Linked DNA regions of Homo sapiens. The protein of the gene in region 1 purifies or fractionates together with the protein of each later gene. This does not show direct contact. Each region holds a gene or a part of one and is shown in the gene's direction. Other genes may lie near its edges.

Region 1 (7,029 bases):
TTTTTGCAATTTTATGATTTCTGTTCTTTATTATTTACTTTCTCCTGTGTACTTGTTCTGTTTCTATCCTCTGAGTTGGACAATTAGTTCATTAATTTTTGGTCTTTCCTGTTTTCTTTTTTTCTTTGAAAAATTTTATTATAAACATGATGCTTTGATATACATGCAGTGATATGGTTACATACATGCAAATTAACATATCCATTATCTTACATAGTTACCTCCTTTTTTTTTTTTTTGCGAAAGCACATAAAATCTGTCTTAGCAAAAAATCCAGAGTATAATACAATATTACTAACTATAGTCCTCCTATTGTACATTAGATCTCCAGACTTGTTCATCCTACATATCTACTACTTTGTATCCTTTGATTTATATCTCTCCATTTCCTCACCACCACCACCACCCCACCCCGCTGACCCCTGCTAAGTATTATTTTATTCTCTGTGTGTATTCATCTTTTTTGTAGATTCCGCATGTGGTTAGGCATGGTGGCTCATGCTCATAATTCCAGCACTTTGGGAGGCCGAGGCGGGTGGATCACTTGAGCCCAGGAGTTCAAGATCAGTCTGGGCAATGTGGTGAAACCTCTTCTCTACAAAAAAAATACAAAAATTAGCCAGGCATGGTGGCATGCGCCTGTAGTCCCAGCTATTCAGGATGCTGAGATGGGAGAATCACCAGAGCCCAGGGAGGTTGAGGCCTGTAGTGAGCTGAGATCGCACCACTGCACTCCAGTCTGGGTGACAGAGTGAGGCCCTGTCTAAAATACAAACAAGCAAACCCCAACCCTGAGATTCTGCATACAAGTATAATCATGCAGTATTTTTCTGTGTGTGGCTTATTTTGCTTAGTGTAATGTCCTCCGGGTTCATCCATGGCAAATGGCAAGGTCTCGTTTTTTAAGGTTGAATAATATGCCACTTTATACACAAACACACACACCCATACATGCACCCACATCATTTCTCTATCCACAGACACTTTGGTTGTTTTCATATCTTACCATTGTGCATAATACTTTCTTCTTTATTTTTATTTCTTATTGTTTTTTTGAGATGGAGTCTCCCTCTGTCACCCAGACTGGAGTGCAGTGGCATGATCTCAGCTCACTGCAGCCTTGTCCTCCTGGGTTCAAGCAATTCTCCTGCCTCAGCCTCCCAAGTAGCTGGGACTATAGGCACTTGCCACCACGCCCAGCTAATTTTTGTATTTTTTTTTTTAGTAGAGATGGGATTTCGCCATGTTGGCCAGGCTGGTCTCGAACTTTTGACCTTGGGTGATCCGCCCACCTTGGGCTCCCAAAGTGCTGGAATTACAGGCATGAGTCACCACGCCCAGCCTGTTTTGTTTTGTTTTGTTTTTAAAGTATTAAGGTTAGAAGTTTCTGTCTAAATACAACTTTAAATGCTTCCTATAAGGTTGTTTATTTATTTTAGAGATAAGGTCTTGCTTTGTTGCCTAGGCTGGAGTGCAGTGGCACAATCATACCTCACTGTAACCTTGAACTCCTGGGCTCAAGTGATCCTCTCGCCTTGGCCTTCCAGAGCGCTGGGATCACAGGTGTTGAGCCATCGTGTCTGACTTGAGTTTTTGACATTGAATATTTTTATTATGGTCATTTCTCAATATTTAAACATTTCCATTATGCATTTCTTTATAGCCCATGAGTGTTTATTAAGAAGTGTTTAAAGTTTTTCAAACAAATGGTTGTTTTGGGGTTAGCTTAATTCTACTCTGTTCAGAAGGCATGTTCTATATGATATAGATTCTTTTATTTTTGTTGAGATTTGATTTGTGTGTAAAACATGGTTGTTTCATAGAAGGTCCAAGTGTGCTTGAGAATAATGTGTATTCTTTTTTTCTTGGGTGTATTGTATTAGATCAAATTGACTAATTTTATTGATCAACTTTTCTGTTTTTTTATTTGCTTACTTATCGGTTATCAAGGAAGGTATATTGAACTCTCCTAGTATGCTTGTAGATTGATCAGTTTCTCCTTTTTTGTTGTTTTTTGAGACGGGGTCTTGCCCAGGCTGTAGTGCAGCAGTGCAATCACAGCCCACTGCAACCTTAATCTTCTGGGCTCAACTGATTCTCCTACCTCAGCCTCCCAAGTAGCTGGGACTACAGGCACGCACGGCCATGCCTGGTAATTTTTGTATTTTTTGTAGGGACTGGGTTTTGCAATGTTTCCCAGACTGGTCTTGAACTGCTGGGATCAAGCAATCTGCCCACCTCAGCCCCACAAAGTGCTGGGATTACAAGTGTAAGTCACTGCACCCAGCCAGTTTCTTCTTTTAATTGTATTAATTTTGAGGCTATCTTATTGATATATTTAATCTTAGAATTGTTATATATCTTTCTGGTGAATTGTTTCTATTATCATTTTGAAGTTGTCTTCATGATTTCCAATAGTGAATTTTGTCTTAAAATCTTTTTTGTTTGATGATAATGTAGCTACACCAGCCTTCTTTTGACTGATGTTTGCCAGGCTTATAATTTTTCCATCCCTATACATCAAACTTTCTGTGATCTTTTATAATTTTTAAAAACCGTTATGTTATATTCAGCTAGATTTTTAAAAATCTTACTGAGAATCTCCCACTTTTAACTTGTCATTTTGATCCATTTATATTTATTGTAGTCACTGCATATTTGTGTTATTATTTTATTTTGTACTTTCTTTCTTTTTTTTGAGACAGAGTCTCACTCTGTCGTCCAGGCTGGAATGCAGTGGTGCAGTGTCGGCTCACCGCAACCTCCGCCTCTCAGGTTCAAGTGATGCTTGTGCCTCAGCCTCCCGAGTAGCTGGGACTACAGGCATACGCCACCATGCCCAGCTAATTTTTTGTATTTTTAGTAGAGATGGTGTTTTGCCTTGTTGGCTAGGCTGATCTCAAACTCCTGGCCTCAGGTGATCCGCCCGCCTTGGCTTGCCAAAGTGCTAGGATTACAGGCATGAGCCACCACGCCTGGCCTTATTTTGGACTTTCTTTATATCATGTTTTTTCCTTTTTTCTTTTTTTTAAATGCATATTTAAAAATTTTTTTTATTGATACATATTTGTACATACTTATGGGGTATATGTGATGTTTTGTTACATGCATAAATGATTTAAGTTAGGGTATATGGGGTATCCAGCATCTCAAGCTTTTATCATTTTTATGTGTTGGGAACATTTAAAGTTCTTTTAGCTGTGTTGAAATATTCCTTTTTTTCCTTTTTTCTTCTTCTTTTCCCATTAGATTAAATTTCTTTATCCCTCTCTCTCTCTTTTTTAAATTCTGCTGATTTGGAAGATATACTTTTAATTTATTATTGTTTTGATGGTTACCCTTAACTAATTTTTTAACCTTTTTATAGAAATAAAAAAACCCTGTAGGAAAGTGCAGCTGTCATAAATTTCACAAGCTGAAATCACTTACAGCACCCAGATAAAAAAAACAGAACATTCTTAGCATGTCAAAAGTCCCCTTTGTGCTTCTTTCTAGTAAGTACTACCCTTGACCCTTTGCAGATAACTATTATTCTGACTTCTAGTAGCATGGATTCGTTTTCTCTTTTTTTTTACTTTTCAGTTTATATTCTCATATCTGGCCTTTGTACTGTACAGTTTTGTTTTCTTGTGTCTGGCCTCTGTGTTCAACATCATGTTTGTGAGACTCATTTAAATTTTTGTGTGTGTTCATTCTTTCTCATGGTTGCATAGTATTTCATTCATAAATATTACTATTCATTCCAATATTGACAGGCATATCTTTAAATTATTAATGTGCATATTTGGTTTTAAAAGTTCAAAGTTGAAGATATTATTTCAGTTGCTTCTGGCTTCTGTTGTTGCTCTTGGAAAGTGTTCTAAGTTTTAATCCTTCATGGATAATTTGTCTTTTCTCTTGGGCGTTTATAAAGATCTCTTTGTCCTTTGTTTTCTGCAGTCACAACATGTCTAGGTGTGAATTTACTTTTATTGTCCTATTTGAAACTTGTGTTTCTCAATCCGAAGATCCACATCTTTTTTTTTTTTCTTTGATCTGTCGCCCAGGCTGAAGTGCAGTGGCACTGATCTCGGCTCACTGCAACCTCCACCTCCCGGGTTCAAGCGATTCTCCTGCCCCAGCCTCCCGAGTAGCCGGGATTACAGGCACACGCCACCACGCCCAGCTAATTTTTGTAATTTTAGTAGAGATGGAGTTTCACCATTTTGGTCAGGCTGATCTTGAACTCCTGACCTCGTGATCTGCCTGCCTCGGCCCCACAAAGTGCTGGGATTATAGGCATGAGCCACTGCGCCCAGCCCCACATCTTCTATCAGTTCTGAAAAAAAACCTAAGCCATTGGTTTCAAAGCATAATGGTAACATGGGCAAATAAATGTTTTTAAAAATCACTCTGTTGCTTACCAGTTGTTTACTTTGGACGAAACATTTAAATGGCTTGTGCCTTAGATTTCTCATCTGTACCATGGGGACAATACTAATCACTATTCTTCCTACCTCAGAGAGCTATCTTGGATAGCAAGGAGGAGAATGTACTTGAAATTGCATTGCAAGTTATAATATGCCACCCAAATAGTACAGGATTGAGTTCACTGTAGATGTTCAACAAAATTTATTTAATGAATCTCAATAAATATTTGTTGAATGTTTAATGAATAAACAGTGTAAATATTGTTTAAAATTTTATTGTTTTTCTCCTTCCCCATTCCCTATAAAAGAAATGCAAGAATATTTGCATCACTCACAGAAATTATCTATGTATACACCTAGAATGTATATGAAAAATCACTACGATGATTTAGACATAAAATGAAATTATATTCAGCTCCCAATGCTGTTGATTTTCTAAAATATAAGCCATTGTCTCTACCATTGGTAGTGTTTAATGTCTGTAAACTACTATTGTTCCTTTTGTCTGTACTCTACCAGCCATCAGATATTGTGTGCATATCCTTGTCTTAGTGTCCATTTTTAATGAATTAATGTATTTCCTGTCTCTCTAATTAGATTTTGTGGAGATGGGCTAGTGAAAAGTTCATGGGTTTAAAATTAGGCAGATCTGGAACCAGATCTTGACTTTTCCATTTCCTGACCTGTGACATTAGGCAAATAGCTTTACCTTTCTCATCTTCTGTTTACTTTTCTGAAAAGTAAGGGATTAATTTAGTTATGGATTCCCTGCCATGTGTATAGTGTTCTTTTAGGTGTTTGAATGACTTAATTTGTATCCTTGTAGCAACCTTGCAATATAGATGTTACTATTCTTTTACAGGTAGGGAACTTGATACTCAGAAAGATAACTTGCCTAAGGTCATAAAGCTAGTATGCATTATAGCCAGACTTCTAACCTGGGGTGTCTGATTATAAAGTGTGCCCCCTCACTAGTATCTGAGAAGGTGTTTAGCACAGTTGACACTCAGTTAATATAGGCTCTTTTTTAGTGGAGCGATAATGTTTTATAATTTTCTAACACTTGACATTTTTCCCTGTACATAGTAGGTACTTCTTCACCAATTGCTTATTGGCTCTGTTTATGCTGCTGTTGTTTTATTCACTGAATGTTCACTTTTTAGCCAAAGGGAAAGGACAGTCCCAAACCAGAGTGAATATTAATGCTGCCTTGGTTGAGGATATAATCAACTTGGAAGAGGTGAATGAAGAAATGAAGTCTGTGATAGAAGCTCTCAAGGATAATTTCAATAAGACTCTCAATATAAGGACCTCACCAGGTTAGTGACTGAACCAATGTTCTGGGGAGGGATGTAATGGAAAGAGCATGGGTTTGGCAGAGTTGAGTTTTAGTCCCAGCTTTGCCATTTACTAACTGGTGGCCATGGGCAGTTACTTTGCTTTTCTGGTCCTCGGTTTTCTTGTTTGATTCTTAACTTACAGCTTTGGGGTGGTAGTTAAAATAAATGAGGTAACGTATTATGGTTCTAGCATAGTGCCTGGCGCATAGTTAACACTACATTTATTTATCCATGCTGCAAATTTTTGTCTACTTTGGAACTAGGCATTGTGCTAGTGCATAGTAGTAAACAAAAATAGGTATTGTCTTTGCTATCATGGAATTAGACTCTCAGAAAAATGAGATTTTTATTATGAATGTACTATAAACACATCTAGGTATTTAGTCTCATAGTAACTGACATCTTTGGTCCGATTTTTCCAATTTGTCCTGTTTGGCAGTTCTTATCCCTTACTGGGAACCAAATGAATACAGACCTGCCCACGTGAGGCATTTCTATACCCCTGAGCTTGACCAGGAAGATTCCGTTTGGGTTAATAACTTCCTGAAAGTGGCTTTTCTAAGTGGGAAATGTCAGAACTGTCTAGGCCAACTGTTTGCAGATGTGATGGAGAAGTGAGTTGTCAGCTGATGGTGCAAGCAGGCAGGAAAAATCCAGTTGCTGTTAAATTAGGCTTTTGCAAATTGTCATCATCCTAAAGTCAAACCTGGGACCCCTCTCTTAAGGTACCTGTGGGAGCTTGGGCTGCTTCTACTCACATCTTGATTAGGATAGTTCATAAGAAAACTAGAAATATTTCGCTCTTAAGAAAACCAAGTGAAAAATACAGCTCCACTTATAAACACTATCAGAAACATTACCGAGTTCAGAGATGAGATCCAGTGTGAAACTAGAAGACTGTTCCCGTCACTTGTCAACCTTTGGGCTGGGGCATTTCTGCCTTTGCTGACAGTAGAGCGTGCCATTCAATCTCTCTCAACTGTTTATTTTAAACTTGCTTATTATTTTAGGTATGAAACTGATAAAGTGCTCTGTCTCCCCTGTGTTTTCTGGCCTGTTAACATTCTGCAGCCGAAACCAGAGAGCAGTTTGAGAGGAGCTCAGGGAGAAATGTGATACTTAAAATTAGCCAGCAAGCTCCACTCTTGTTGAACTTAAAAAGATGATGGGCCTGGAAAGAGGTTGGGAGTGTAATTTGTTAAATGTTAACCTCTGAGAAAATGAGGGGCAGGAATGAGGCTGAGGGAGATTCTCGCTGGGGACAGATTGAGGGAAAAGGA
Region 2 (7,029 bases), on another chromosome or scaffold:
GAAGGAATCTGGGTAGTTTCTAGGTTTTTGGTATTACGAATAAAGTTATTGTGAACATTTGTGTAAGATGTTTTGTGAATTTAATTTTCATTTCTCTGGGATAAATGCCCAAGTGTACAGTTACTGGGTTCTATGGTAATTTCATGTTTAGTTTGATGAGAAACAGAAACTGTCAAACTGTTTTCCAAAGTGGCTGTGATATTTACATTCCCACTAACAATGTATGAACCATTCAGAGTCTGTGCATCCTCACCAACATTTTGTGTTGTCACTGTTTTTAGTTAACTATTCAGATAGGTATGTAGTATAAGACTCCTTTTCATGACTAAGTTTGCCTATATTCTGATTTAGGAGGACTTTGTTTGTACTATCTAGTCACCTTACTCCTGCATATCCCTAGGAACTAGAGGCTGCTATCCAGCCAGATACTAGCCTGGTGTCAGTCATGACTGTGAACAATGAGATTGGAGTGAAGCAGCCTATTGCAGAAATAGGTGAGTATCATGGCTTATCCCTGATCCCTGCCCACCATGGGGCTCTGTATGAGGTAGTATACTGAGAGCTGTAATACTCTATGGAGTGTAGTTAGGAAATCAAGGGAAAGCCTAAGTACTTTGTTCAAGGACATTGGAAGTGTCATAGGCAGTATTTGAATCCAGGTCTATTACCATTTTTTTTTTCATTGAGACAGAGTATCACTCTGTCACCTAGGCTGGAGTGCAGTGGTGTGATCTCAGCTCCCTGCAACCTCCTCACTCTGGGTTCAAATGATCCTACCGCCTCAGCCTCTTGAGTAGCTGGGACTACAGGTGTGTACCACTATGCCTGGCTAATTTTTGTATTTTTAGTAGAGATGAGGTTTTGCCATGTTGGCCAGGCTGGTCTTGAACTCCTAACCTCAGGTGATCCGTCTGCCTTGGCCTCCCAAAGTGCTGGGATTACAGGCGTGAGCCACTGCTCCCGGCCAGGTCTAGCACCTTTTATGGTTTTTAATTTTATTGCAGTTGCTGCCAAAACCAACCACAAAACAAAAAAGCCTGCTACTCTTTTTCCTTTTAGAACATCTCTATTCTCCCCACATAGAGATCGCCCTGTAATTTCTTTAGGCACATTAGCACAAAGATCTGTTAATCTTGTTTTTTTTTTTTTATTTTGTTTTGTTTGTTTTTTAATCAAAAGGGATCTAGAAAGTAATCTGACATTTTGAAAGGCTGGTGTTAATGAGGTGGTGAGAATTGTATGCATAAGAATATCACGAGTGTTTCGATCTGGTGCTTTGCCCTTCATCTTTTTTATTCTAAAGAAGGGAAGCTACTGAGACACAGAGAGGGAGGAAGGGGGAAGGGGGAGGAGGGAAGGAAAAGAGGAAGGAGAAGGGGTAGAAGGAGGGAGGGGAGGAGTTTAATATTTACAGGTCATTTACTATTGGAGATAATTCACAGTGCACTGTGGGACTCTGACAGATGACTTTCCAACATTGTGCTGTGGGTCTTCCCCTCTGTTTCCTCAGGGCGGATTTGCAGTTCCAGAAAGGTATATTTCCATACTGATGCAGCCCAGGCTGTTGGAAAAATCCCACTTGATGTCAATGACATGAAAATTGATCTCATGAGCATTAGTGGTCACAAAATCTACGGTCCCAAAGGTACCAGCCCCTTCTAGAGTTCCTTCTCTCTGTACCTTCCAGCAAGACCTTTGATAGATGTTTGTCACAGTCATTTGGGACTACTGTTGCTCTCAGAGGAAGTTGTACATTCAGAGTCCCTTGTAGAATGCAAATGTCATTTAGCAATAGCCAGAAACACTTGCTTGTTTGTAGACCTTAGCAGTTACTATACATCAGGCCATTCTTTCTTGCTCTCTTTAACAAATCCTTAGCAAGCATGTAGATCTTAATTTGGTTGAGGAAAAATGGGTTTTGTCAAATCAAATTTATCTAGATAGGCCCAGCTATCTTGTTTTCCCCACTATGATGTGCAGAGCAACTATTTGAGTCCCTCATTCCCAGTGTCTTGCTATAGCTCAGGGGAAGATTGCATGGGATTTGACATCTCTTTGTGTTCTTTTTTTTTTTCTTGAGACGGAGTCTCGCTCAGTCGCCCAGGCTGGAGTGCAGTGGCGCCATCTCGGTTCACTGCAAGCTCCACCTCCCTGGTTCACGCCATTCTTCTGCCTCAGCCTGCCGAGTAGCTGGGACTACAGGCGCCTGCCACTACGCCCGGCTAATTTTTTTGTATTTTTAGTAGAGACGGGGTTTCACCATGTTAGCCAGGATGGTCTTGATCTCCTGACCTCGTGATCCGCCCGTCTCGGCCTCCCAAAGTGCTGGGATTATAGATGTGAGCCACCAAGCCCAGCTATCTTTGTGTTTATTCTTAGAAGACTTCATAGTCTGTTATCCTGTTAGTCTCTCAAGGATACATGTTTGTTCCCTATGGTCCTATTGGAATGTGTTCAAGCTTGAGTTATGCCTCTTTCCCTTAACCCTTGGGAATAGACTGTTGTCCTCTGTTTTGTGAAGGTAACCATAAAATATAAATATAAAATATAACTCCTCTTTCTCAAGTGAGGGCCTTTTTTGGGTTGATGTCTGTGCTGGTACCCTTTTTATGTCTGCAGGGTGTGTTATCTGGGTGTATACCTTGTGGAAGTAGGTGTAATAGCTTCTGGAATTATGGAAGATGGCGTCTTCTAAGGGTTCCCAGAGGTTGTAGAGTGTTTTTTGTGAGTTATTATTTCAAAAAGCCCAGTAAGCGTTCTGTCTTTTAATAAAATGTTGCTTTTATTGGCTTTTATTGTAGATAAGTCTTTTTGATAAAAACCAATGAACTCAGGCTGGATACCCCATTCTTCATCATGTGCCTATTTCACATTATATGCCTGTATTAAAACATCTCATGGGCTGGGCACGGTGGCTTACACCTGTAATCCCAGCACTTTGGGAAGCCAAGGCGGGCGGATCACGAGGTCAGGAGTTCAAGACCAGCCTGATCAACATGGTGAACCCCCGTCTCTACTAAAAATAAAAAAATTAGCCGGGTGTGGTGGCATGTGCCTTTAATCCCAGCTACTCAGGAGACTGAGGCAGGAGAATCGTTTGAACCCAGGAGCCAGAGGTTGCAGTGAGCCGAGATCACACCACTGCCTGGGCGACAGGCGAGACTCCCTCTCAAAAACAAAAAAAATCTCATGAACTCCATAATATATATACCTCCTGTGTACTCACAAAAATTTTAAAAACAAAAAACCAATGAACTCATTGATCAGAAGCTCTGATCAACACTTACATGTGTACAGGTGTCCCTCATTATCCAACCTCCTGCTTTCCAAGTCCAGAATCTAAATAGATTTAGATAATGTGGCATTCTTCACTGTTCAGACATGGTATTTGAGCACTTGCTGTTTGAATTTGGGAACTGTTTAGACTCAGATAGTATAAGATTCTTGAATTTTTTTAAATGGAGAAATGAAATAATTCTTAATAAATACAGTTTAATACATTATTTTATTCATTTGTTTTATAGGGACAAGGTCTCACTCTGTTGCTCAGGCTGGAGTGCAGTGGTGCTATCCTACCTTGCCACAGCTTCAATCTCCTGGGCTCAAGCAACCCTCCTACCCCAGCCTCACCAGTAACTAGCACTACAGGTGTGCACCAACACGCCTAATTTTTTTTTTTGAGACAAAGTCTTACTCTGACGCCCAGGCTGGAGTGCAGTGGTGTGATCTCGGCTCGCTGCAACCTCTGCCTCCCAGGTTGAAGGGATTCTCCTCTCTCATCCTCCTGAGTAGCTGGGATTATAGGCCCACTGTGCCCGGCCATGCCTGGCTAATTTTTTTTTTTTTTTTTTTTGAGACAAAGTCTCGCTCTTGTCCCCCAGGCTGGAGTGCAATGGTGAGATCTCGGCTCACTGCAACCTCCGCCTCCCGGGTTCAAGCGATTCTCCTGCCTCAGCCTCCCAAGTAGCTGGGATTACAGGTGCCTGCCACCACGCCTGGCTAATTTTTGTATTTTATTTTATTTTTTGAGACGGAGTCTCGCTCTGTCACCCAGCCTGGAGTACAGTGGCGTGATCTTGGCTCACTGCAAGCTCCGCCTCCAGGGTTCACGACATTCTCCTGCCTCAGCGTCCCAAGCAGCTGGGACTACAGGCGCTTGCCACCACGCCCGGCTAATTTTTTTTTTTTTGTATTTTTGTAGAGACGGGGTTTCACTGTGTTAGCCAGGATGGTTTTGATCTCCTGACCTCATGATCTGCCCGCCTCGGCCTCCCAAGGTGCTGGGAATACAGGTGTGAGCCACCACACCCGGCCTAATTTTTGTATTTTTAGTAGAGACAGGGTTTCACTATGTTGGCCAGGCTGGTCTCGAACTCCTGACCTCAGGTGATCCACCCACCCTTGGCCTCCCAAAGTGCCGGAATTACAGGCGTAATCCCGTGCCCGGCCCAATGCCTGGCTAATTTTTAAAACAGTTTTTGTAGAGATAGAGGTTTCACTATGTTACTCAGGCTTGAATTCCTGACCTCAAGCAACCCTCCCGCCTCAGTCTCCCAAAGTGCTGGGATTACAGGCATGACCCACTGCACCCAGCTTATTATTTAAAATCTGGTGTCCTTCATAATCGATTTGGAAACCACTGCCTTAATTTTTATAGTACCTCCATTCTCAGCATAAACAGTTTTTCTGTGTGGGAGAACTGTCAAGTGCCAATTCTATTCAGAAGCCCTGATTACTTGGTGAATAACTTTGCATGCTCATGCTCATATTTTGGCACAAAATTTCTGTAATTCGGCTTGTTTAGTCACAGGTTATACGCATTTTTAAGTTTTTTGTTTTTTTGAGTCAAGGTCTCAGTCTGTTGCCCAGCCTGGAGTGGAGTGAGTGGCACGATCATAGCTCACTGCAGCCTCGACCTCCTAGGCTCAAGTGATCCTCCTGCCTTAGCCTCCAGAGTAGCTGGGACTATAAGTGCATGCCACCATGCCCAGCTAAGTTTTAATTTTTTTTTTTGTAGACACGGGGTCTCACTGTGTTTCTCAGGCTGGTCCCAAACTTCTGGTCTCAAGTGATTCTCCTTCCTTGGCCTCCCAGAATGCTGGGATTGTAGTCATGAGCCACCGTGCTCCACCAAATTGTTTTTAAATTTAAATTTTATTTTGAAAAAGTAATATTCATGTGATTCAAAATTCAAAAGCTACAAAAAAGTGCACAGACAGCCAGGTGCAGTGGCACACGCCTGTAATTGCAGCACTTTGGGAGGCCGAGGCGGGCAGATCATGAGGCCAGGAATTTGAGACCAGCCTGTCCAACATGGTGAAACCCCGTCTGTACTAAAAATACAAAAATTAGCCATGCGTGGTGGCGGGTGCCTGTAATCCCAGCTAATCAGGAGGCTGAGGCAGGTGAATCACTTTAACCGGGAAGGTGGAGGTTGCGGTGAGCTGAGACCGTGCCATTGCACTCCAGTCTGGGCAACAGAGCAAGACTCTTGTCTCAAAAAAAAAGGGAAAAAAAAGGCACAGACAAAAGTCTGCCTCTCACCTCTGACCTCCAGCTATGCAGTTCCCTTCTGGGGAGGTAATTTCTTTCTTGGTTTTTTTTTTTTTTTTTTTTTTTTTTTCTGATTTTCTCTGGTTATTGGGAGGCAATTTCTTGGGTTTTTCTACAATTATCCTATGTGTTTACAAACAAATATATACTTCTCCTCCAGCTTTCTTTTTTATCCAGATGATAGCATACTGTACTCACTGTTTCAATCTTTCATTTTTCACCTAATGGTACATCTTTTTTTTTTTAGACAGAGTCTTGCTCTGTCACTAGGCTGGAGTGCAGTGGCACAATCTTGGCTCACTGCAACCTGTGGCTCCCAAGTTCAGGCGATTCTCCTGCCTCAGCCTCCTGAGTAGCTGGGATTACAGGTGCGTGCCACCACGCCCAGCTAATTTTTGTATTTTTAATAATTACGGGGTTTCACCATGTTGGTCAGGCTGGTCTCGAACTCCTGATTTCATGATCTGTCCGCCTCGGCTGCCCAAAGCACTGGGATTACAGGTGTGAGCCACCGTGTCCAGCCCATAATACATTTTTTTTTTTTAGACGGAGTTTTGCTCTTGTTGCCCAGGCTGGAGTGCAATGGTGCCATCTCAGCTCACTGCAACCTCTGCTTCCCGAGTTCAAGCAATTCTTCTGCCTCAGCCTCCCTAGTAGCTGGGATTACAGGCATGTGCCACCATGCCTGGCTAATTTTGTATTTTTAGTGGAGAAGGGGTTTCTCCATGTTGGTCAGGCTGGTCTCAAACTCCCGAACTCAGGTGATCCACCCACCTCAGCCTCCCAAAGTGCTGGTATTACAGGCGTGAGCCACTGCGCCCGGCCAATACATCTTTGTTTTTTCAAGCTAAAGTACAGACTTTTTTTTGGATTTCACCAGTTTTGTAACAATGTATCTTGGAGATTTTATGGTGTCAGTTCAGAACAAGCTTCTTCTTTTTTTTTTTTTTTTTTTTGGGAGACAGAGTCTTGCTCCATCACTCAGGCTGGAGTGCAGTGGCTTGATCTCAGCTCACTGCAACCTCTACCACCTGGGTTCATCTCATGTCTCAGCCTCCTGAGTAGCTGGGATTACATGTGCCTGCTACCACGCTTGGCTAATCTTTGTATTTTTAGTAGAGAGAGGGTTTCACCATGTTGACCAGGCTGGTTTCTAACTTCTGATCTCAGGTGATCCGCCCGCCTTGACCTCCCACAGTTGGGATTATAGGCGTGAACCACCACACCCGGCCCCCTCATTCTTTTATACACCTGCTTGGTATTTCATTGTATGGACATGCCATAATCTATTTGACCATTACCCTGATGATGGACATCTAAGTTGTTCCCAGTATTTTTGCTATTATGAATAATACTGTAATGTATGATGGCATTTCATATAGCATAGGGAGCTACTTTAAACCATTTTGATCATTACTCCTTCTGGCATTTATCTTCCAGATGTTAAATATTTTACTAAATACTATGCTTTTACTG

The links.
Region 2: the proteins of MRRF (region 1) and NFS1 purify together in Homo sapiens (affinity purification with mass spectrometry; 2 studies listed by BioGRID and IntAct, with this or other methods). This does not show direct contact.

The regions. Positions count from the first base shown.
Region 1 is NC_000009.12:122,274,871-122,281,899, forward strand, and holds part of MRRF (ribosome-recycling factor, mitochondrial isoform 1 precursor), read left to right. Parts: intron 1-5,572; coding exon 5,573-5,728; intron 5,729-7,029. UniProt on the Homo sapiens protein: Responsible for the disassembly of ribosomes from messenger RNA at the termination of mitochondrial protein biosynthesis. Acts in collaboration with GFM2. Promotes mitochondrial ribosome recycling by dissolution of intersubunit contacts.
Region 2 is NC_000020.11:35,675,353-35,682,381, reverse strand, and holds part of NFS1 (cysteine desulfurase isoform a precursor), read left to right. Parts: intron 1-400; coding exon 401-494; intron 495-1,510; coding exon 1,511-1,645; intron 1,646-7,029.